Linked DNA regions of Homo sapiens. The protein of the gene in region 1 purifies or fractionates together with the protein of each later gene. This does not show direct contact. Each region holds a gene or a part of one and is shown in the gene's direction. Other genes may lie near its edges. The genes, in order: HSPB8, VPS33A, MYH4, NUDT12, LONRF2, USP34 and RGPD5.

The links.
Region 2: the proteins of HSPB8 (region 1) and VPS33A purify together in Homo sapiens (affinity purification with mass spectrometry; one large-scale study listed by BioGRID and IntAct). This does not show direct contact.
Region 3: the proteins of HSPB8 (region 1) and MYH4 purify together in Homo sapiens (affinity purification with mass spectrometry; one large-scale study listed by BioGRID and IntAct). This does not show direct contact.
Region 4: the proteins of HSPB8 (region 1) and NUDT12 purify together in Homo sapiens (affinity purification with mass spectrometry; 3 studies listed by BioGRID and IntAct, with this or other methods). This does not show direct contact.
Region 5: the proteins of HSPB8 (region 1) and LONRF2 purify together in Homo sapiens (affinity purification with mass spectrometry; 2 studies listed by BioGRID and IntAct, with this or other methods). This does not show direct contact.
Region 6: the proteins of HSPB8 (region 1) and USP34 purify together in Homo sapiens (affinity purification with mass spectrometry; one large-scale study listed by BioGRID and IntAct). This does not show direct contact.
Region 7: the proteins of HSPB8 (region 1) and RGPD5 purify together in Homo sapiens (affinity purification with mass spectrometry, with the first as the bait; one large-scale study listed by BioGRID). This does not show direct contact.

The regions. Positions count from the first base shown.
Region 1 is NC_000012.12:119,188,931-119,192,088, forward strand, and holds part of HSPB8 (heat shock protein beta-8), read left to right. Parts: intron 1-3,158. UniProt on the Homo sapiens protein: Involved in the chaperone-assisted selective autophagy (CASA), a crucial process for protein quality control, particularly in mechanical strained cells and tissues such as muscle. Displays temperature-dependent chaperone activity.
Region 2 is NC_000012.12:122,238,995-122,242,494, reverse strand, and holds part of VPS33A (vacuolar protein sorting-associated protein 33A), read left to right. Parts: coding exon 1-113; intron 114-2,549; coding exon 2,550-2,617; intron 2,618-3,500.
Region 3 is NC_000017.11:10,459,560-10,463,059, reverse strand, and holds part of MYH4 (myosin-4), read left to right. Parts: intron 1-91; coding exon 92-195; intron 196-2,005; coding exon 2,006-2,144; intron 2,145-2,738; coding exon 2,739-2,857; intron 2,858-2,958; coding exon 2,959-3,108; intron 3,109-3,500. UniProt on the Homo sapiens protein: Muscle contraction.
Region 4 is NC_000005.10:103,550,573-103,552,789, reverse strand, and holds part of NUDT12 (NAD-capped RNA hydrolase NUDT12), read left to right. Parts: intron 1-373; coding exon 374-573; intron 574-1,818; coding exon 1,819-1,929; 3' UTR 1,930-2,217. UniProt on the Homo sapiens protein: mRNA decapping enzyme that specifically removes the nicotinamide adenine dinucleotide (NAD) cap from a subset of mRNAs by hydrolyzing the diphosphate linkage to produce nicotinamide mononucleotide (NMN) and 5' monophosphate mRNA.
Region 5 is NC_000002.12:100,319,702-100,323,752, reverse strand, and holds the start of LONRF2 (LON peptidase N-terminal domain and RING finger protein 2), read left to right. Parts: upstream 1-1,251; 5' UTR 1,252-1,659; coding exon 1,660-2,338; intron 2,339-2,371; exon of another isoform or gene 2,372-2,564; intron 2,565-4,051.
Region 6 is NC_000002.12:61,464,588-61,468,087, reverse strand, and holds part of USP34 (ubiquitin carboxyl-terminal hydrolase 34), read left to right. Parts: intron 1-3,500. UniProt on the Homo sapiens protein: Ubiquitin hydrolase that can remove conjugated ubiquitin from AXIN1 and AXIN2, thereby acting as a regulator of Wnt signaling pathway.
Region 7 is NC_000002.12:109,797,305-109,800,804, forward strand, and holds part of RGPD5 (RANBP2-like and GRIP domain-containing protein 5/6), read left to right. Parts: intron 1-3,500.

The DNA.
Region 1 (3,158 bases):
AGAGATCACACTAGCTGAATTCTGAGGCTTCTTCCAGCTTGGGATTCTACATTCCTGTCTCTTCCCCCACATGTCCGTCCCTGGCCCTCCCACAGCCTCTGCAGTTCTTGGAAGCCTGTGGACACTTCCTGATAAGGCAAACGCCAAACCATTTGTTCTTCGTGTTTGCTGGCTTGCCTGGCATCTCCGTGCCCCACACCTCTCCCTGGTTTAGCAAGCAGATTAAACATTGCTGAGGGAGAGGAAGGAAGGCAGGGGGTGGGGGGAAGCTGATGTCAAGGCTCAAATGAGGTCTCAGGGTGGAGTCACAAGCAGGGCATAGCTGTAAAAGGGACTGTGTAAGAAAGAAGTGAATTAATCATCTTAAAAGGGGTGTGTGTGTGTGTGTGTGTGTGTGTGTGTGTGTGTGTGTATTTCACATGCTCCAAGGCCTTAGGGGAGATAGCTTGCTGGAAGTAACCTGATGAGAAATGCCTGAAATTGCTCCAGGCTGGTGCTCAGCTGCTGAGCTGGGCTAGTTGTTAAAATATTCAGTGGTCCCCAACCTTTTTGGCACCAGGGACCAGTTTCGTAGAAGGCAATTTTTCCATGGACTGGGGAATGAAACTGTTCCACCTCAGATCATCGGGCATTAGATTCTCATAAGAAGCATGCAACCTAGATCCCTCGCATGCACAGTTCACAACAGGGTTCAAGCTCCTATGAGAATCTAATGCCACTGCTGATCTGACAGGAGGCGGAGCTCAGGCAGTAATGCTGGCTGAACTGCTGCTCACCTCCTGATGTGAAGCCTGGTTCCTAACAGGCCACAGATGGGTGCCGGTCCATGATCCGGGGGATGGGGACCCCTGAATATTGGCTAGCTATTGCCCTGAGCCCTCCCTAGCCAACCCCAGTCACTCTGATCTTGTCCCCAGGACCCTCTAAACCTCTCCACCTTCCAACAACTAAAGGGTCCCAGGACCCTCCTCCATCACTATGACATGCACCCATCCCTTCTGAATGGTCAGTGCCCAGCTGCACTAGTTGTTAAATATTTTGAATCTCAGCTCCGGGTGCAGGGAGTCCTGGCTCCATGAGAAAGTGAGTGGGTAACTTGGGGCAACTTGCTTAACTGCTCTGACCTTCCATTCCCACATCCCTGCATGGAGGGGTTGTGATGGGAGTGAGAGGATGTGTATAACGCATTAAGCATGGAATACAGACTCAGGGCTTGGTCCATGGGAATTAATATTATGAAAAGGCTTCACAAGGCTGGACTCACACTCCAGCAGCTGGGACTCCTGGGAGCTCCTGGCTCTGCCCAGACTCTAGACACCTAGGAGTCGAACTGGGGTCTGGGACACCTCTGGACCAATCTCAGGAGTCCTCGTTGCCTCCTCTCCCAGGGAAAACTCCAGTCATTAGAGGACAGGGAGATTCCTTCAGCCAGGCTGAGATCCTTGGAGATTTCCACCCAGGCAGGATGCTGCAGCTGTTTGCCTTAACCATGGCAAGGAAATTCATCTCAACACATCCATCTCTGTGTGAAAAGCCCCATTTGGACTGAATAAGGAGGAGAGGGAGAGGTCTTGGGTCTCAGCTTTCAAAGTCCATGATCTTCCTATTTGGTTAGGGGAAACCAAATTACAGTCATTTGCAATACCGTCATTCACATCCCATCTTCACTATTTTTTGCCTTATATGCTTACATTGCTGTACCATGATTTACTAAAGGTTTTTTTTTCTTTTAGATCATCTCATTTTTGATAAAGTTAAATTCTTATCACTGAAATGTTCACTGAGGAAAGCGATCATGAAATAAATCCAATGAAAGCAAACTGTGGTTAAATTCTAACTAGATAATATTGCCTGCCTAAGGGCCTCAGCTCTCTCATTGTTAAAAAGGGAAGGTAGCAAGTGATAGAGGCTAAAGGCGTTAAAGGCATGTTAGTACTTAGCAGAGACATTCCTTCAGATGTAAGTAGAAGCACTGAAAGAGAACTGAAGAGGAATTACTTTCCCACCAAATGGGTTTAAATACAAGTCACTTGGTTAGAGACCTTGGACTTGTCTATCTCTCTGAGTTTCAGTTTCCCCATAAGTAATATAAGAGCATTGTCATGGACAATCAGGAAGATCCTTTGGGGCCCTGATACTCTGTGGTTCAATGATCCTGCAATTTGTATGATACTCCATCTTGCTGTCAAGATGCCAACATGTAAGGTCAAAGACTGCAACGTAATTCTCACTCCACCCTAAGAGGTGGGTACTATTATTGCCCCCTTTTTTTCTGCAAAGAAACAGGTTCAAAGAGTCAAGATCACCAGCCCCATGTTGTGTGGTCAGGAAGAGTCAGAATTTGAATGCACGTCAGCCTGCCTGCAAAACCCATGCTCTAGGCCATAGCCACCCTGTCACACTGTACCTGGTGTGCACTGGGTTGGTGTGCACATGGTTAAACAGTCAGCCCATCCCCAGCATTGGGAGGGAGGTCTAAACTTTTGACTTTGTCTCCGCTTCAAAAGCTTGACTTGGCAGCTTTCTAGTTCCCTCTTTTTCTTCCAAATGGGCTTCCCAGAAGCAGCCTTGTTCATCTCCATGGTTCCAATCTGGCAAGGAATCTCCTGGGTAGATACGGCTCATGTGGCTACAGGTTGTTGTACCCACAAAAAAAGAAAGAAAGAAAGAAAAAAAAAAAACTCCCCAGCCCCTCCAGAAGGAGTCCTGCCTATGATCAGGAATGGGCTTACCTCATGCCTTGGTTCTTTCATCAAGACCCTCGTATTTACAATAGGCAGAGCCAGCAGGGATCAGTGGAAAGATTTTGATTGAACTGCCGGTCCTTCCTGCCATAGTCCTTCTTTCAAATGTCTGGTGCTGGGGGAGGCAGGAGAGCATCATGGTCAGATACTCTGAGTTTGGAGACCAGGATTCCAATTCCATTTCCTATCTGCCATTTGCCAGCTGAGCAACCTTGGGCAAAGCAGTTCACTTCTCTGAGTCTCAATTTCCTCATCTGTAAGATGGGGATAGCAATGGAATCTGCCTGGTGGGATTATTGTTAACACCAAAATGATATGATTCAGCTAAAGTACCTGGCACATAGAAAGTACTCAGAAGGTCATGGATTTCATGGTTAAAAAAAATAATGGCACCCCAATGAGATCACTAATATG
Region 2 (3,500 bases), 3.1 Mb from region 1:
TAAGACCGTGGGGGAGATCAAGCAGTTTGTTTCCCAGTTGCCCCACATGCAGGCAGCAAGGGGCTCGCTTGCAAACCATACCTCAATTGCAGAATTGATCAAAGATGTCACTAGTGAGTATCCTTTGTAATGATTGTTTCAGTCTGGGGCTACTTGCACATACAACGTTTGACACCTAGGTCATCAACACCACAATGCCTCTTCGGGAGAGTCAGCTCTGTCTTAATACCACGTGTTCTTCTCAGTGTTAATGAAGTATACATATGTTAATAGTTAAGGATATTCCAGGCGGGGCATGGTGGCTCATGCCTGTAATCCCAGCACTTCGGGAGGCCAAGACGGGCAGATCACTTGAGGTCAGGAGTTTGAGACCAGCCTGGCCAACATGATGAAACCCCATGTCTACTACAAATACAAAAATTAGCCAGGCACAGTGGTATGCATCTGTAGTCCCAGCTACCTGGGAGGCTGAGGCAGGAGAATTGCTTGAACCTGGAAGGCGGAGGTTGCAGTGAGCCGACATCACGCCACTGCACTCCAGCCTGGGTGACAGAGTGAGACTCCATCTCGAAAAACAAAACAAAAAGAATGTTCCATTTGTTGGCCAGGCATGATGGCTCACATCTGTAACCCCAGCACTTCGGGAGGCTGAGGCAGGCAGATCACTTGAGTCCAGGAATTGAAGACCAGCCTGGGCAACATGGCGAAACCCTGTCTCTACTAAAAATACAAAAATTAGCTGGGCATGGTGGCACATGCCTGTAGTTACAGCTACTCAGGAGGTTGAGGCATGAGAATCACATGAACCCTGGAGGCAAAGGTTACAGTGAGCTGAAATCACGCCACTGCACTCCAGCCTGGTTGAGCGAGACTCCATTAAAAAAAAAAAAGACTGGGCGAGGTGGCTCATGTCTGTAATCCCACCACTTTGGGAGGCCGAGGCAGGTGGATCGCCTGAGGTCAGGCATTCGAGACCAGCCTGGCCAACATAGTGGAACACCATCTGTACTAAAAATACAAAAATTAGCCAGGTGTGGTGGCGGGCACCTGTAATCCCAGCTACTCAGGAGACTGAGGCAGGAGAATTGCTTGAACCGGGAGGCAGAGGTTGCAGTGAGCCAAGATTGCACCACTGCACTCCGGCCTGGGCGACAGAGCAGGACTCCATCTCGAAATAACGAAAGAAAGAAAAAGAGAAAGAGAGGAAGGGTCCATTTTTTAACTCAAATTTTTTCATTATCATTTATATGAAAAATATTTGGAATGTAGATAAGAGAAAAAAATTATCCATAAGTTTGCCATCATAATCTGAGATGGTTAATTTTTTTAGTCTAGCTTTTTTTCTTTTTTTTTTTTTTTTGAGACGGAGTTTCACTCTTGTTGCCCAGGCTGCAGTGCAATGGCACAATCTTGGCTCACCGCAACCTCTGCCTCCCGGGTTCAAGTGATTCTCCTGCCTCAGCCTCCCAAGTAGCTGGGATTACAGGTACTTGCCACCACGCCTGGCTTATTTTCTATTTTTACTAGAGATGGTGTTTCACCATGTTGGTCAGGCTGGTCTCAAACTCCCAACCTCAGGTGATCCGCCTGCCTTGGCTCCCAAAGTGCTGGGATTACAGGCATGAGCCACCGCGGCCAGCAGCTTTTTTCCTTTTTTGAAGGATTACTTATTGGCGCATGTTCTTCCCTTGAATATTCTGTGCAGAATTGGTACAAAGAGTATATGTTGAGTATTTTGAAAGAGCTCAGAAGACATCTATTAAAGCAGACATGAGTTTGTTTGTTTGTTACAACACAGGGCTGTAAAAGCTGAGTAGGAGATTGTTTTATGAAGTATACTTCGAATCTTAAGTAAATCACAGTTATCGGAAAATCAGTCCTTTGTTTCCCTGTTCATAGGAGTGGAAACCAGTTGAAATTGGGTTGAACCTAATGATGAAAATGAAATGTTCTTGAGAAATTAGCTTTCATTCATACTGACGCTCATTCTGGGGTCTGTACTGAAATCCTAAGGATACAAAAGAGTGCACTTGTCGACTGTATCTAGTGTAACTTAGGAGTGCAGAGGCCTAGCGTTTTCCATGTTTCCTAAAAGATTTTCTTCAGGTGATGACTTGAACTTATTGCTTGCTTGCTTTTTTGCATGATGTCTGGTTTCTTTTCTTTTGAGACAGAGTCTCGCTCTGTTGCCCAGGCTGGAGAGCAATGGTGTGATCTTGGCTCACTGTAACCTCCGCCTCCCCGCCTCAAGTGATTCTTGTGCCTTAGCCTCCCGAGTAGCTGGGACTACGGGTGTGTGCCACCATACCCAGCTAATTTTTGTGTTTTTGGTAGAGATGGGGTTTGGCCATGTTGGTCAGGCTGGTCTTGAACTCCTGGCCTGAAGTGATCCACCCACCTCGGCCCCCTACAGTGCTGAGATTACAGGTGTGAGCCACCGTGCCCAGCCACATGTCTAGTTTCTGAATCGTGCTCTGTGTATAAAAGCATGCCACTCAAGTAAATTAACATTTAATTTCTAAGTTGCAAATTTGCTAATTTCATTTTAGCTTCTGAAGACTTTTTTGATAAATTAACCGTGGAACAGGAGTTTATGTCTGGAATAGACACTGATAAGGTATGTGGACAAAAAAACCTCTTTAACAAGTAATTGAAAGCTTATTAAACCTCAGATTATAGCCAGAAAACCAATTGCTTTGATTCCCATGCCTTGCCTTTTTTTTTTTTTTTTTTTTTTTTTTTTTTGAGACGGAGTCTCACTGTGTGTCACCCAGCTTGCTCTGTTGCCCAGGCTGGAGTGCAGTGGCGCCATCTCTGCTCACTGCAAGCTCCGCCTCCCGGGTTGACGCCATTCTGCCTCAGCCTCCCGAGTAGCTGGGACTACAGGCGCTCACCACCACACCTGGCTAATTTTTTGTATTTTTAATAGAGACGGGGTTTCACCATGTTAGCCAGGATGGTCTCGATCTCCGACCTTGTGATCCGCCCACCTTGGCCTCCCAAACTGTTGGGATTACAGGCGTGAGTCACTGCGCCCGGCCACTTAAATATTTTTAAGAGCAAATGCAAAATGTGCAAGTGTAGATTTTATCAAGTAACAGATATTTAACATTATTCTGTGCAAGACACTTTCTGCCATACATGGCAACATGAGACCTGGCCCCTAAAATCAAATCTTTTTAAGACTGTATTAGATAAGGTATTTGCTCTTTTGAAAGAGTTTCTTATATAACTCCTTTAAATAGCTCTATTAACAAATTTTAAATTATTCACTTTATGAAAATTCCTAACATAAAACAATTACTGATACTTTTTGCTAGATTAGTTGTTGATACTATTGAAATGGAGTAGACATCTGGTAGCCTCTCAGAAGCGTGTCCTTAGAGACAGACGTGTCCAGACAGGCATATGGAGTGACCAATTGTATTCTCAGCGGCCTTGGGCTCCAGTGACTTGGCCTGATCACTGGGGGGTGTGTGTGTGTGTGTGTGTGTGTGTAT
Region 3 (3,500 bases), on another chromosome or scaffold:
AAGAATAACAGCCCTTCTAAGAAGCCTCTCTGAAATGTTTTTGATGACCAAAGCAATGCTGTCTATATACTGTTCTTTTCCATGTGTTCAGAAATGCTTCTGATCACCACCAACCCATATGACTTCGCATTTGTCAGCCAAGGGGAAATTACTGTGCCCAGCATTGATGACCAGGAAGAGCTGATGGCCACAGATGTAAGTAATAGGTACAAAGTAGTAAAAAGTAAATTCATTTTCCAGTGTACAACACTCTCCTCTATTAGGGTGGAAAGCAGTGGCAGAAAGACTATAAATAGGTAATACAACCCTTTGGGCTTTCTTACTTTTGGAAAAAAATTGTAGGATATTTCAATACCCTCCCCCTACATGTGTTAAAAAGCTTTCACTGCCTGTAATAAATGTTGGGTCTTTAGTATTCCTTAGCTAGTAGGCTCCTTTCATTCTATCTTTCTTATTAGTCATTTTTGGTTGATATTTATGCTCCAATATTAATGTTTCTCTGCTATTTTATGCCACACCTCACACCCAAGATTCTGGGAAGGAGCTGCAATATTATTACAACTAAACATGGAACTCCCACTGTTCTTCTACAGTCACATGTAAACATAAGCCTTATTTTGAATAAACCTCTGTGGGCCAATGATATATCCCTCTCTACTCCCTAAGCAGCATTAGAAGAAGTGGGTTGTCTACTTCAAAAACACTCATTTTGGGGACTCCATAAGCCTTTATATTTATTTTTGAAACAACGCACTCTCTCCCCACCATCACCTCTTTTTTAAGGATTATTGCTTTTTGGCTTACTTTCTTTATATGTAAACTTTATGTATATTTCATGCTTTCTTTTGATTTCTGAATAATCTTCCTTATTTTTAACTTTAATATCAGTGGGACTATCCCAATACCCCCAAGTTAGAGTTGACAGTGCTTGCAAAACTGCTTTTTCTATTAAAATATTATTTTCAAGAAGTCAATAATTCATTTGTGTGGCTTTATATTATAAATATCAGCTTTAACTCTCTATAACTTATTATTATCTTTGTATGTCCAAAAGTGATAGGGAGTTAAGAAACACACCCTGGTCTGCGAGGTTAAAAAAATGTAGCAGTCTTGCTCTAAGACTTCCGTAATAATGTCTAGTTTCTGTAAATAGGTAGAGTTAGTGAGCTGGAAGTGGAAGTCAATAATCTGGGGAAAGAGTCTTAGGTAAGAATGGTAAATAAACATATTTTCCTCTGCCTGCTCTGAATCCTGCCCCCATTTATAAGCCTTTTCAAAGCCTATGTGGGCAACTAAAAAGGTAATCAAAATTCGATAGAGAAAAAAGACACAGAAATATTATACTAAATGGCAAAATTCCTTCTTTTCATAAATGTCTCTTCTCTGCATGAGAAATAAATAACTAGGTAAAGTTTGCTACCCCAGGCATCTCGTGGTCGCTGAGCTGTGGCTTGCTATCAGAGAGGCATGTGGAGAAAGACTCACAACCATTGCTGTTCTCCTCATACCCTCTTTCCAACTTTATCACTCATGCCCATTAGCAGGGGAAGGTAGACTGGGATTATGCATTAGGATAGGACAAATAGGAGAAGAAGGAGCAACAGAGAGACTCGTGAGACTGGAGAAAAGAAACAAAAATAGCCAAAAGACCAAGAGGAGCATGTGCCTGAGAAGCAAAGGGGGGCTGGGGTGGAGAAAAGGGGCAAAGCACTGGCCTTGGCATCAAAAGTCATGGCTCTTAGTCCTGGTTCAGTGAGTGTGGACAAGTCACATCATATGCTGTGACCAAATGGACTCATGACTCAAATGGAAAGACTGATGCATACCTCTTCGTGTTGCCATGTGGATCAAAAGGTAAAGCATATGAGTACCTTTTGAAGATGGCAAAGTGCTAGTCAAATATAAGGCAAGGCGTGATGAGAAAAAAGTGGGAGACAGCCCCGGTGTTCTGAGGGATTCTTCCATGGTGCTAATTGGGGATGAGCAAATTCAACTCTTTTGACAGAGTGCTGTGGACATCCTGGGTTTCACTGCTGATGAAAAGGTGGCCATTTACAAGCTCACTGGAGCCGTGATGCATTATGGGAACATGAAATTCAAGCAAAAGCAAAGGGAAGAGCAGGCAGAGCCAGATGGCACGGAAGGTACCACCCCCTGTTGGTATCTTCCACTTGACAAAGCTGACATAGTGAACTTTTCAGAGGCAGGGACCGTGTTTTTACTTTCTCTGACCTAGCTCGTGAAGGGCAAAAGTATTACGAGAAGGAAATTACACACTGCCTGACGTTTTACATTATTTAGCAGATTTGTGATTTCTGCTCATTCCATTATTCATTGGCTTTTCATAAGCTCATATTTGCTATTTGACTAAAACATATTTTATTTCAGGATAATCTGTGTGCCCACAGGCACTGAAAGAAACAGAGATCTGAATATTTCTGTCACTACTCCTCTAGGTTAGGGTTTCTCAAATTATTTTTATCTGTGGTCTACTTTTGCCAGGTTAAATATCACAGACAGCATCGATTCCCCAACCTCCAATTTATCATCACAAGAAATGACTAAAATTAGTGCAAGTGGTGGCAATGCTTTTGAGGCAATATGAACAAATGAAAAGGTTTCAATGACATTTGCACATCTTACTTTTTGAGTGAAACCTTTTTTCTTTGTCATCATCATTTACATTTTAAATTGTGTAAGCCATGGTCAGTTTCACCATTCTCACCTTGTTCACACAGTTGCTGACAAAGCTGCTTATCTGACAAGTCTGAACTCTGCTGACCTGCTCAAATCTCTCTGCTATCCCAGAGTCAAGGTCGGCAATGAGTTCGTAACCAAAGGCCAGACTGTGCAGCAGGTAAACATGACTTAAATTGTCTGATTTATTTGAACCGCAAGTGACTCAGGAGTTCATCACTGTTTTCAATTTAAAAAACTAAACTATCACTTCTGTTGAAGGTGTACAATGCAGTGGGTGCTCTGGCCAAAGCCATCTACGAGAAGATGTTCCTGTGGATGGTCACCCGCATCAACCAGCAGCTGGACACCAAGCAGCCCAGGCAGTACTTCATCGGGGTCTTGGACATTGCTGGCTTTGAGATCTTTGATGTGAGTAGTGAACTGACAGAAAATTAGCCAGTGCAAATCCTCTTGTTAGAGCATACAAAATCACATTTACAAAATGTACCTTACAAAATATACAAATGTAATTCCTACTGAAAGGAGTCTTTGAAAAGATATGAAAAGTAAATAGGTATAAATAGGAAAAGAGAAAATTCTATTCTTTTGAGTCTAGAAGTCTCAAAAGTTGATCCCTGAGAGGTTAAAATAGTCAAAATCTATCCTGGATCCAAGCAGATGAGCATGAGAACACCTTTTTAAAATTACTCTAAGGAAATATTTCAGAGTCCTCATTTAACAGTATTTTGCCTAGTATGCATGATCTCATGCAGTTACTTGGAAAATAAGTATTCAAAGAATCAATTCTACTTTGTTTAGAA
Region 4 (2,217 bases), on another chromosome or scaffold:
TAAAAATCATGTAATTTATAACTATTTCGTGGACAATATATACATGAGATAAGATATAAAGTGTTTGCATAGTGTTTAACCAGTATTAGGTATTGGATATTTTTAGATGGTATCATTATTTTTAAAATGTAACTGACAAATTTGTACCTTAAAAAAACGAAAAGTTTATTGTTGGCATTTTGATATTCTATATGTGGTCATGTACTTTAAAAAAATTGTTTTCTTCAATTACAGTCTAGTTTTAGGCTTCTGCTTTCTGATTATTTGCATTGGGTTTCTGTCCAAAGTGATTTCCAGATGTTTGAACCATTCAGGACACAAAGTGTCCCGGGCATGTTCATCAGCAACTTGTTCTTTTGCTCCATTTCATTAGGAGAGACAATAGAAGATGCTGTTAGGAGAGAAGTAGAAGAGGAAAGTGGAGTCAAAGTTGGCCATGTTCAGTATGTTGCTTGTCAACCATGGCCAATGCCTTCCTCCTTAATGATTGGTTGCTTAGCTCTAGCAGTGTCTACAGAAATTAAAGTTGACAAGAATGAAATAGAGGATGCCCGCTGGTTCACTAGAGAACAGGTAAAGTTCAATTTAATTTCCTTCTTCTATTGATTGTTCCCTGACTGTATTGGTTTGGTCACAGAGCAAGGATGCATATTTTCAGCAAGTTGAATGATGCCTTTGGCCCTCTCATTATGCATGGATTACATGGTAATTAGTAATTCCATACAGGAGGAGTATGTTTCACTAATGTGATCTATATTAACTTATTCTATGAGATTTTTCTAGTAGAGATGATTCTGTACCATTTCGAGTTTCAGATTCCATTCCTTCACATAAATAATAATACCTATCAGTGGGTTTAGAAAAACATTAATTCATAGATGAGAAACAGGAATATTCTTATACATTTTATATTTTAGTTTATAACATTAAAACAAGTAGCTCTCAAAAAACATCAGTAAGTGCTTAAAATTTTCAGAAAGTTTTTATTCATTTTAAAATGTACTTAAGGACAAGAATGACATAACTGTATAATAAACATACACTTAAAATAACTTTCTAAAATGTCATTCCTAAATAATATATTAAAAGATAAATTACTCATCTGACCTGAAATTCTTTCTGACTTTGCCTGCATAAAATTAATTTTATTCTATGCTTAATCCTAAAAGATGGAAATTAGATTATTGCTTATGAATTTTATAAAAAAGAATCTGTTTCAAAAGTTGGCTTTGCTTAGAAATTAAGTGTGGAGCGTACATTTTGCTTTTTCGTGATGTCATTTTCATAAGGGAATGTGTCTTTCTGGAACATTTTAGAAACTGAATCACTTACTCAGTGAAGCAATTAAAAATGCTGTCCTAAATTTTGCATGTTGAGGCGGGGCGTGGTGGCTTATACCTGTAATCCCAGAACTTTGGAAGGCCAAGGCAGGAAGCTTGATTGAGCCCAGGAGTTTGAGACTAGCCTGGGCAACATAGGGAGACCCTGTCTCTACAGATAATTTTTAAAAAGTTAGCCAGGTGCACCTATGGTACCAGCTACTTGGGAGGCTGTGGCAGGAGGATCGCCTGAGCCCAGGAAGTCAAAGCTGCAATGAGCCATGATCCCACCACTGCAACTCCAGTCTGGGTGGCAGAGTGCAAGACCTTGTTTCCAAAAAAAAAAAAACTTTGCATGTAAATATGGATGTTGTCACTTTCTACTGTTGTTATTCACTGTAAAACTCATCACATTTTAATTGAATTATGTAAACATGGGAATAGTATTTAAATATGACAGCTTTGAAATCCTAATGCATTCTATTATGGTGTGTTTTAGGTCCTGGATGTTCTGACCAAAGGGAAGCAGCAGGCATTCTTTGTGCCACCAAGCCGAGCTATTGCACATCAATTAATCAAACACTGGATTAGAATAAATCCTAATCTCTAAATCTAAGAACTAAGCTTTGAGTATTATTTAATAATTTCTAATAACACTCATTCCTCAAGTGATATTAGAGATTATTCAGTACTCTTGAGAGTGTCACAACACAAAATACGATGTTGGGTTTTCGAAATATTTTCAAAGTGTTCTGTCTTAATCACAAATTCATATTTTTACACATTTTTACAATATTGCCTCAGATTATGTTAAATTTGGGTCAGTCTTCTCTGAACTTTTTCTCTCTTGGTTTCTTTTCTTCCTTCACAGTTTTATCTCACAAAACCATTTTTCTAA
Region 5 (4,051 bases), on another chromosome or scaffold:
TTCTGTTCTCTTGCTAGATATTTGTCTAAAATAAGAACAAATAGGATCTGAGATCATAAGGTTTCACAATCTTTACTGTATGGTCTGTGCTCTGAAGCTTTTTCCCCATTGCTTCCTGATTGTTGGTTGTGAATTTGATGGATAAATGACCCTCAAATATAAGTGAATTGTTATTCTATAAAGAAAGCAGATAAAAATCCAAACAGTGATTGAAAAAGTGAATTTGAAATAATTCAGTAATGAAAAAGAGACCCAAACAGTACACTGTTATCAATTAAGTTAGGTAGACAGCTGGGGGAAATCCTTCATGGAAAAGGAGGTGGGTACTCTGCATTTGTTTATTGTAGAACTAGAGGGCTGGCCAAAAATTGCCCCTTTTTCCCTTTTAGGAACTGGTCTAAAATGTTCTCTCACTTAATGAGGCATTTCTCCTTTCCCAAAGCCAGATGTGGTCGAGGTATTGTATATTTTCTTTAGCCAGCAGTTTTAGATGTAGAAAAACCTCTCCAATTTTTTAAAAAAATTTATTCTTGAAATATGAACAGTAGTATGAATTCTAGAATATTGTAATGCATTTTATTGTATTCAAATACACAGGATAAAACAGATACTGTGACGACAGGAAGAAGGGAGCAGGCTACATAGGAGAAATACATAGGCTATATAGGAGAAATTATGAACCCGGTTAATACGCACAGAGGATTTTAATTTAAACCTTGCTTGTACACCAACGGAGCGTTTAGCTCCCTCTCCCCAGCAACTTATGTCTGCAGTACTCCATACTAGGGCACCCTTTCTATTTCTATTCTAATTCTATTAATTAGAATTCTATTTCTAATTCTATTTCTGCTTCCTAATCAAGGGCACAATACAATTGTCCACTTCTCGAATCCCTCCTCCTCCTGGTATCTGGTTCTCTTGGCCCTCCACGTTCTCTGTTAAAATGAGTTCTCAAAGGCCTCAGCCTAGAGTTAAGAGAAGAAGCTCGCTGAGGCGGGGCCTCTGGGTGCCCACTTCAGCCTCCCCAGTCATTTAGGACAATTTCCTAAGTCGAAGCTAGAGATGCGTGATGCGTTTGGTGACTTTTCCTGGGTTCTTGCTTAAGCGGAGCCACAGGTTGTGGGGGCGGCCAGGCCTCTGGGGAAGAGCAGGTGCCGCGGTGCCGGCGCGCCAGCAGCCCGCGGCCAAGGCCACCTGCTCCCAGGGCCCCGGCACCTCTGCGGGGAGGCGGCAGGCAGAGGACGCGCGCGCAGTCGCGCAGGAGCCCTCAGGCGAGTGGGGGAAGCATCGCAAGAGACGCGGACCTGGAGCGCGGTCACTGCGTTACCGCAGCGACCTGGGTTACCTAAGCCGGCGGGACTGAGAGGCCGCTGCGCGTGGGCAGGGGCTCAGATTGCGCCCGCGGTGCCTGTCCCGGCCCCCACCCCGGAACGATTGCAGCCCTGCGGGGCTCGCCGCCCACACCGCGCTGAGGACGCTGCCCAAGCCAGGCGCCCGCCCCCGCCCGCGGTCTCAGCCGCTCGCAGCGCGCCGCCCCCAGACGCGCGTGGCTGCTGGCGAGGGCTGAGACCGCGCTCCCGCCGGCCAGTTCCCAGCAGCAGCGCATCCTCCCTGCTCCGCGCCTTCGCTCCGGACCCGCGTCGTCGCAGCCCCGCGGTGATGAGCCCCGAGCCGGTCCCGCCGCCGCCGCCGCCCCAGTGTCCTGGCTGCGACCGCGCGGAGCCGATCGCCCAGCGCTTAGAGGAGGGCGACGAGGCCTTCCGCGCGGGCGACTACGAGATGGCAGCCGAGCTCTTTCGCTCCATGCTAGCCGGGCTGGCGCAGCCGGACCGCGGCCTGTGCCTGAGGCTGGGGGACGCGCTGGCCCGCGCCGGCCGCCTCCCCGAAGCCCTGGGCGCGTTCCGCGGCGCCGCGCGGCTCGGGGCGCTGCGGCCGGAGGAGCTGGAAGAGCTGGCGGGCGGCCTGGTGCGCGCCGTGGGCCTGCGCGACCGGCCGCTGTCCGCGGAGAACCCGGGCGGCGAGCCCGAGGCGCCCGGCGAGGGAGGGCCGGCCCCGGAGCCCCGCGCGCCCCGCGACCTGCTCGGCTGCCCGCGCTGCCGGCGGCTGCTGCATAAGCCGGTGACGCTGCCCTGCGGGCTCACAGTCTGCAAGCGCTGCGTGGAGCCAGGGCCCGCGCGGCCGCAGGTGCGGCGCGTGAACGTGGTGCTGAGCGGCCTGCTGGAGAAGTGCTTCCCGGCCGAGTGCCGGCTGCGCAGGCTGGCAGGCCAGGCGCGGAGCCTGCAGCGCCAGCAGCAGCCGGAGGCCGCGCTGCTCAGGTGCGACCAGGCCCTGGAGCTGGGTGAGTCGGCTGCGGGGCGGGTCCGCCTCCCCTACACCTGTCCGGCCCAGCAGCGGGGTGGGGAGCTGGCCGGTGGGCCCGAGGCTTTGGGCTTTCGAGAGCTTTGTCTAGGCTTAGGGGTCACTTTGCTTCCTAAGGATGGGAAGGTGAAAGGTGGGGGCGGCCACACCCTGCAGCCAGGAGAGGCCAAGTGCACCCCACTGGTTTTGTCTTTTCCAGGATGCTGGTAAGTTTCCCGCGGCCCCCGGAGCAGCTCTGTAAGGTCCTGTAATTGCTTTTCGGCATCTTCTGCGCTGTTGAGGAGCGGGGAGGATGACGAAATATTTTTGCTCATCCTGAAGGAAAATGCACATAGCTGACACACTACAGGCGCAGAAAGGGGTGCCTTGTGCTGGGGCAAGATTTGCTTTGGGTTTCAGCTAATATAGCCAGGAAGGAACCGCCTCCACTCTGCTGTAATCACGTCAAACGCTCCGGCTCTAGCCTGCTCTCTGTCTCAGAGGCCATCATTAGATGTCATGGCGTATTTAACTTACTAGATAGTTACACTGACTAGTGTGTGTAGTTTTAAATTGTTCATTCAGTCATTTCCTTATTTATCTGAGGCCTAAGGCCAGCAACAGGCACTCTCCTGCCTTCACCCAGCCACCACCTGTTAACACTATTTAGCTGAAAGGAAGACCAAACTTCTGTCATCGTTTTGGCTTTGACATATGAGTATGCGCTCTATTGGCAGTTGTTTTGGGCAGTGTGAGGAGGACGGTTTGCTTTCTGGTTTCACCGGTTTTATAATAGGGCATATACGATTTAAAGCACTAGCCGAGAAGACTTGTTGAATCTCTTGTTACTAAAATAATCTACTACCATGCTGTAGTCAGTGCACATTTTATTTTAAACTTAGGATTAAGGTTTTCCCTTTTAGAAGGCACAAATTATAAAGTGACTAGCATTCAATTTTGTCTTGCAAAAAAAAAGATCCAAATATTGAACAAGTGTTCAATATCTGTATCTAAATTGGGATATTCTCTGCTGGAATAGAGCACTTAACTCAGCTTTTCTAACGAGTATTCTGTAGTTTTTGCAACCAACATATCCATACTTTAACAGGCATATTTTTTAGTTTTCTACTAATTTAGGTATTGATGGTGTTAGAGCAGCACTATCCAATTAGAACTATTGTGTAAGCCACACATAATTTGGGATTTTCTTGTAGCTACATTAAAAGGGTGAAAAAAGCAGGTGAAATTTATTTTAGCAATTTTTAACCCTATACATCCAAAATATTATTTCAACATGCCTTCAATTTTAAAAAATAATTGAGATTTTACTTTTTTAAACTAAGCCTTTGAAATTCGTTATATATTTTGCATTTACTGCACTACCCAATTCCAACATCAAATTTTCATCAGAAATACTTCATCTGTATTTAGATGTTGGAGAAGATGTAGAAAAATGAAAACTGTGATATTTATATGCTGCTAATGGGACTGCAAATTATGCCCCTGAAAAATATTTGGTAGTATCTACAGATGTTAAGCCTGTCCTTGGCCAAATAGTTTCAAAGAGGTATATGCATATGTGCCCCCAAAAGAATGTGCAATTAGATACAAGAGTGTATGTCATTGTTAGAGATACCCCAAAAGTGCACACAACCCAAATGTCCAGTAAGAGCAGAAGGGGTGAATATATGATTATGTTTTCATAGCATACTAT
Region 6 (3,500 bases), on another chromosome or scaffold:
GAACATGAGTGGTTGGAGCTTGATAAAACTTGTTGAAGTAGATTATATGTGTTTCTTGTGATCTCATTTGCAGTAATTACCTATAAAGTCTGCCCTTTTCCCGCCTGTACCTTGTACAAAGATGAGCATCAGTTCAACGTTGATTTAGAAATTCAGAGTTGGCCGGGCAACTCTGAATACAGCTCACGCCTGTATTCCCAACACTTTGGGAGGCCGAGGTGGGCGGATCACAAGGTCAGGAGCTCGAGACCAGCCTGGCCAATATGGTGAAACCCCATCTCTACTAAAAATTCACCAATTAGCCGGGTGTGGTGGTGTAGGCATCTGTAGTCCCAGCTACTTGGGAGGCTGAGGCAGGAGAATTGCTTGAACCCTGGTAGGCGGAGGTTGCAGTGAGCCGAGATCATGCCACTGCACTCCAGCCTCGGCCACAGAACAAGACTCCATCTCAAAAAAAAAAAAAAAAAAAACAAAGTTACAGTCCTCCCAAAATGTGCTCAGAATTCATCTTTAAATACGACACCCTGTAACAGTTTAGCCAGCTGAGAGAAGCAATAAAATTGTGCATATTTTTGGGTGGTGTGTTTCCAGGTCATGCTGAAAAATACGTAATTAGTATTAAAGCAACCTCACAAAACAGTCAGACGTGGTGGTGCGCCCCTGTAATCCCGCCTCGGCAGGAGGCTGAGGCAGGAGGATTGTTTGAGGCCAGGAGTTCGAGACCAGCGTGGGCAACATAGTAAGACTGCTTTTTTTATTATTATTATTTTTTTATTTTTTATTTGGAGACAGAATCTCGCTGTGTCACCCAGGCTGGAGTGCAGTGGCACGGTTTCGGCTCACTACAACCTCTGCCTCCCTGGGTTCAGCAATTCTCCTGCCTCAGCCTCCCAAGTGGCTGGGATTACAGGCACACGTCACCATGCCCAGCTAATTTTTGTATTTTTAGTAGAAACGGGGTTTCACCATATTGGCCAGGCTGGTCTGAACTCCTTACCGTGTGATCTACCCGCTTCCGTCTCCCAAAATGCTAGGATTACAGGCGTGAGCCACCGCGCCTGGCCAAGACTGCTGTCTTGAAAAAACAAACCAAAAACACTGTTTCTTGTGAAATTAACAAACAGTGATCACACTTAGAGAAGGCTACCTGGGCAAACGAGTGTAATAAATTTTTTTTTTTTTTTTTGACACGGAGTCTAACTCTCACCCAGGCTGGAATGCAGTGTCGGCTAGCTGCAACCTCCACCTCCCGGATTCAAGTGATTCTTCTGCCTCAGCCTCCTGAGTAACTGAGACTACAGGCACCCGCCTCCTTGCCTGGCTAATTTTTGTATTTTTAGTAGAGGTGGGATTTTGCCATGTTGGCCAGGCTTGTCTCAAACTCCTGACCTCAGGGGATCTGCCTGCCTGTACCTCCCAAAGTGCTGCAATTACAGGAGTGAGCCAGCATGCCTGGCCTAAAAATTTTGTTTAAAAAATTTTTAGTTGATAAATAATAATTTTACATATTCATGGTGTACATAGTGATGTTTCAATACATAAAACGTATAGTGATCAGTTGAAGTTAATTAGTATATCCATCTCAAACATTTAGCATTTGCTTTGGGAACATTCAGTATCCTCCTAGCTATTTGAAACTGTATCATATATTATTGTTTTTTTGAGATAGGGTTTCTTTCCCATTGCCCAGGCTGGAGTGCAGTGGTATGCTCTTGGGTCACTACAGCCTCCGCTTCCTGGGCTTAAGCAATCCTCCTGCCACATCCTCCCAAGTAGCTGGGACTACAGGCATGTGCCACCAAGCCCGGCTAATTTTTGTATTTTTAGTAGAGATGGGGTTTCACCACGTTGGCCAGGCTGGTCTTGAACTCTTGAACTCAAGTGATCTGCCCGCCTTGGCCTCCCAAAGTGCTGGGATTATAGGCATGAGCCACCATGCCCGGCTTGTATCATATATTATTGTTAACCGTAGTCATTCTGTAGTAGTACTTATTCCTTCTATCTCACTGTAATTTTATATTCTTTAACAAATCTCTCCCTATCCCTCCCCTCCCTCTACCATTCCCAGCAAATTTTGTTGTGTTTTTGTTTATTTTATTTTATTTTTTTTTGAGACAGAGTCTTGTTCTGTCACCCAGGCTGGAGTGCAGTGGCGCCATCTCTGCTCACTGCAAGCTCCGCCTCCCGGGTTCACGCCATTCTCCTGACTCAGCTTCCCGAGGAGCTGGAACTACAGGCGCCCGCTACCACGCCCGGCTAATTTTTTGTATATTTAGTAGAGATGGGGTTTCACCATGTTGGCCAGGATGGTCTCGATCTCTTGACCTCGTGATCCACCTGCCTCGGCCTCCCAAAGTGCTGGCATTACAGGCGTGAGCCACCGTGCCTAGCCGTGTTTTTGTTTATTAATAGAGACAGGGCCTTGCATTGTTGCCCAGGCTGGTCTCAAACTCCTGGTCTGAAGCCATTCTCCTGCCTCAGCCTCCCCAAGTACTGGAATTACAGGCATGAGCTACCATGCCTGGCCAGTTAATTGTGTTTTAAATGAAAGGGTAGACACAAGTGTGGGTAGTATAGCTTTGTATTAGATATGCACAGACTTTTTGATAAGAGTAAGGACTTAATGTGGAATGTTTAAAGTTTGGCAGAATGCAGTATCGTTAAAAGTAACAGATTATGAACAGTTCGTTTTGTCATCAGTTTTTGGTGAGAGTATTAATATTATTAGTTATACCTCTAGTCCTGAGAATCTGAAGCTGTAAACTTTCACTGTGGAAACATGCAGAGGCATACAGACACAGAATTGTGCTTACAGGTTGAGGACCCGTTGAAGTTTGTTCCTGGAACCAGACTAAGGATCCTATCATAAGTACCCTTGCCCCACCACACCCACCCTTTTTAAATATAATCTTGACACATATCATAAAAGTTGAAACTACATTTCAAAATCATATTTGGCTTTAGTGTTAGAATAACCAATCCCAACAATACTAAAATACTGGACTTGCCATTTTCTTTTCATGCTTCATTTTAAAAACATTTAAAAAGCTTGGATGTATTGAGTAAATTTTGCTGTTATCATTTTGTGGGATTACATTCTGTTTAGGATAAATTTTAAATTTCTGTTCCTCTGCTTGTTCTGTTGAGTTTGTCTGATAACTGCTTTTGTAGTTACTTTTGTGAACCAGTTTACAAAGGCCAAAGCATTTCTAGATCTTGGTGAGGAGTTGGAGGCTTAAAATTACATGCTTTAGGCCATCACCATAGCAAACTCACTAGTAAACTGAGGTTATTTACCTCGTAAGGTAAATTTCTCTGAAAGCAGAGTGAAAATTACATAGTACCTCTTTTTTTTTTTTTTTTTTTTTTTGAGACGGAGTCTCGCTCTTTCGCCCAGGCTGGAGTGCAGTGGTGCGATCTTGGGCTCACTGCAACCTCCGCCTCCTGGGACTACAGGCGTGAGCCACCACGCCTGGTGTACGTCATTGTTTTAAACCACT
Region 7 (3,500 bases), on another chromosome or scaffold:
TAAACCCTCAAATGTGGTCAAACTGGTCAGATAATCCCATCAATTTCAGCTTAAAACACTGATTGATTGATTGATTGTCTGTCTACCTGGAATACCCTTACTAACCAACTTCTCCAACCCGGATTGGTTTTTCTTCCTCTTTGCTACACAGCTGTGCTCTTGGGACTTCCCTTTATCACCAGTTTGAGAATTCCCTTCATCTTTTTTCTGAGTTAGACCCTTTGTTTCTTGTATCTCATGTCCTCTTCATTTACTTTCTTTGTTTTGGTGTAGCATAGTCTCACTTGCTTTGAGGAAAAGTGGATGAGAGGTTTTTTTGTTTGTTTTTGTTATGGGACAGAGTCTTGCTCTGTTGCCCAGGCTGGAGTGCAGTGGCATGGTCTCAGCTCACCGCAACCTCCGCCTCCCAGGTTCAAGTGATTCTCCTGCCTCAGCCTCCCGAGTAGCGGGATTACAGGTGTGCGCCAGCATGCCCGGCTAATTTTTTCTATTTTTAGTAGAGATGGGATTTCACCATACTGGTCAGGCTGGTCTAGAAACTAATGGTATGTCTTTAAAACATCTTTACTTAATTTAGTTGATCATTTGGTTATCGAATTCTGAGTTTCAAATAATTTTTTTCGCAATTTTGAAAGCATTGCTTCATTTTCTAGAAGTTCTGTTGTTAGGAGTCCCATGAGATTCTTGTTCTTGGTAACTTAAAGGTTTTCTGGAAGTGTCCTTTCAATTGGGAAACTCATTTCTTTCAGTTCTGTAGCATTTCTTGTATTATTTCTTTAACCATTTCTTACCCTTTTTTTTAATGATGTTTACCTGAAAGCTGGAGTTTCTCTAATTTTTCTCTTATTCTCCTCTTTTGTTTGTTCTGCCTTTTGAGAGATTTCCTTACCCTTATGTTCCAGGGGAAGAAGATTGGGGAACTCATGGTTCAGTATCTAGACTTTTCCTCATTGTCCTGTATAATCACGGCCTTCACCCTTGTTGGGACTCCACAGATTTGGAGCTGATCAGATGGGTTTGTTGAGAACAGCAGCTTTTTTGGAGGATTTTAGGGGGAGGGAGATTCATTTGATTGTGCAAGATGGGCGACAGGGTGAGACTCCGTTTGAATTAAAAAAAAAAGAGAGAGAAATTTAGAACTGCATAATGAAAAAGTAGGCCACAAATATTAAGTTTTGGACAATTACAATTACATCTCTATCTTACTGTGCAAGATAGCGATGATGTGGCATCTCTTAGGGTCTTACTGTTCCTGTTTTCAGCCCTGCATCAGTTCTTGATATTTGACAGCTTAAGTGAATTCAGGTATTTGCTTATAGTGACATCTGCTGTCATGTAAAGAAGTACTGCTTGCATCAGATATTGTCCTGTTTACATAACATGGGCTGTGCTCCTTTCTAGCTGTATATCTTTAAACAAGGCATTTGCCTGCTTGAGCTTCAGTTCCCTTGTAAAGTGAGCAGGTTAGAGGCAAAAGATCATATAGAAGAATAATTTGTAAAGTTGTTTAATTATCTTAAGATTGTCTACTTTAATAACATAGTTGGAAGCAAAGAAGGTAATGGAATTATTTTTCTATTATGTTTTAACATAGTTGGAAGCAAAGAAGGTAATGGAATTATTTTTCTATTATGTTTTGGCATTGTACCTTGAATCTATTTCTTCATTTTGAAAAGGGGGAACTGGCGGGCTCGGTGGCTGATGCCTGTAATCCCAGCACTTTGGGAGGCGGAAGAAGTCAGATCACAAGGTCGAGAGATCGACACCATCTTGGCCAACATGGTGAAACCCCATCTCTACTGAAAATACAAAAATTAGCTGGGCATGGTGGCATGCGCCTGTAGTCCCAGCTTGTACCCGGGACGCAGAGGTTGCAGTGAGCTGAGATCGAGCCACCGCACTCCAGCCTGGCGACAGAGCAAGACTCCATCTCAAAAAAAAAAAAAAAAAAGGAAGGGGGGAACAGGCCTTGTTCCTTTATGTGCTGTCCTGACTGTTGTGTATTATTTTTGTTAAGATTGCTATAGTTCTTTTTTTTTTTTGAGACGGAGTCTTGCTCTGTCGCCAGTGCTGGGATTGCAGGTGTTAGCCTGGCATTGAGCAAGGTTTTGTAATTTAAGCATACAAGTCTCTCACCTCCTTGTTTACATTTATTCCCAGGCATTTTTTTCTTTTAGATGCGATTGTAAATGGAATTGCTTTCTTAATTTCATTTTCTGATTGTTCGTTGCTGGTACAGTAGTCCCTTCTTATCCACAGTATTGCCTTACGTGGTTTTACTTACCTGCGTCACCCGTGGTCCAAAAATATTGAATGGAAGATTATATAAATAAACATTTCATGAGTTTTAAATTGCAAACAGGTCTGAATAACATGATAAAAATCTCACGGCCTCCTGCTCCGTCCTACCCAGGACACGAATCATCCCTTTGTCCAACATATTCATGCTGTATGTGCTCCCCACCCGCTAGTTACATACTAGCCATCTCAGTTATCAGATCAGTTGTTGGAGTATTGCAGTGCTTGTGTTCAAGTAACCTTTATTTTATTTAAAATGGCACCAAAGAGCAAGAATAGTGATGCTGGCAGTTCACATATGCCAGAGAGAAGCCATATAGTGCTTCCTTTAAGTGAAGAGGTGAGTTTTTGACTTAGGAAAGAAAAAAGATCATATACTGGGGTTGCTGAGATCTATGGTAAGAACAAATCTTTTGTCCATGAAATTGTGAAGAAGGAAAAAGAAATTTGTGCTAGTTTTGTTGTGACACCCCAAACTGCAAAAGTTACAGCCACAGTGTGTGATAAGTGCTTAGTTGAGATGGACAAGACATTAAATTTGTGGGTGGAGGACACAAACAGGAAGCATGTTTCGATTGATGGCAACCTGGTTTGGTACTATTCATCGTTTTTGGACATTCACTGGGGTCTTGGAATTTCAAAAATAAGATGTTTGAGTAGCTGTATACTCTATCACATGGATGGAACATACTCTGGTTGTATCAGCATTTTTTTTTTTTTTTGAGATGGAATCATTCTGTTGCCCAGGTTGGAGTGCAGTGGTGCGATCTTGGCCCACTGCAGCCTCTGCCTCCCGGGTTCAAGCGATTCTTTGCCTCAGCCTCCCAAGCAGCGGGGATTACAGGCGTGTGCCACCATGCCCAGCTAATTTTTGTATTTTTAGTAGAAAGGAGGTTTCTGTATGTTGGCCAGGCTGGTCTCGAACTCTTGGCTTCAAGTGATCCACCCGCCTCAGTCTCCGAAAGTGCTGGGATTACAGATGTGAGCCACCGCACCCAGCCTGGTGTGCATCAGCATTTTGGACTTTGGAGTTTATGTAACCAAGGATCCAGGCTGTGGACCTCGTTTATTACTTGAAGAATTCAATATTTATTTCTGCCTTTTTGACTCCTTGACTGTAAAATACTGATCTGATCTGTAGAGAGAACAGTACATGGACCCGGGAATCCTCAGTGCCTTAATAGATCCTAAGTACTTACTTA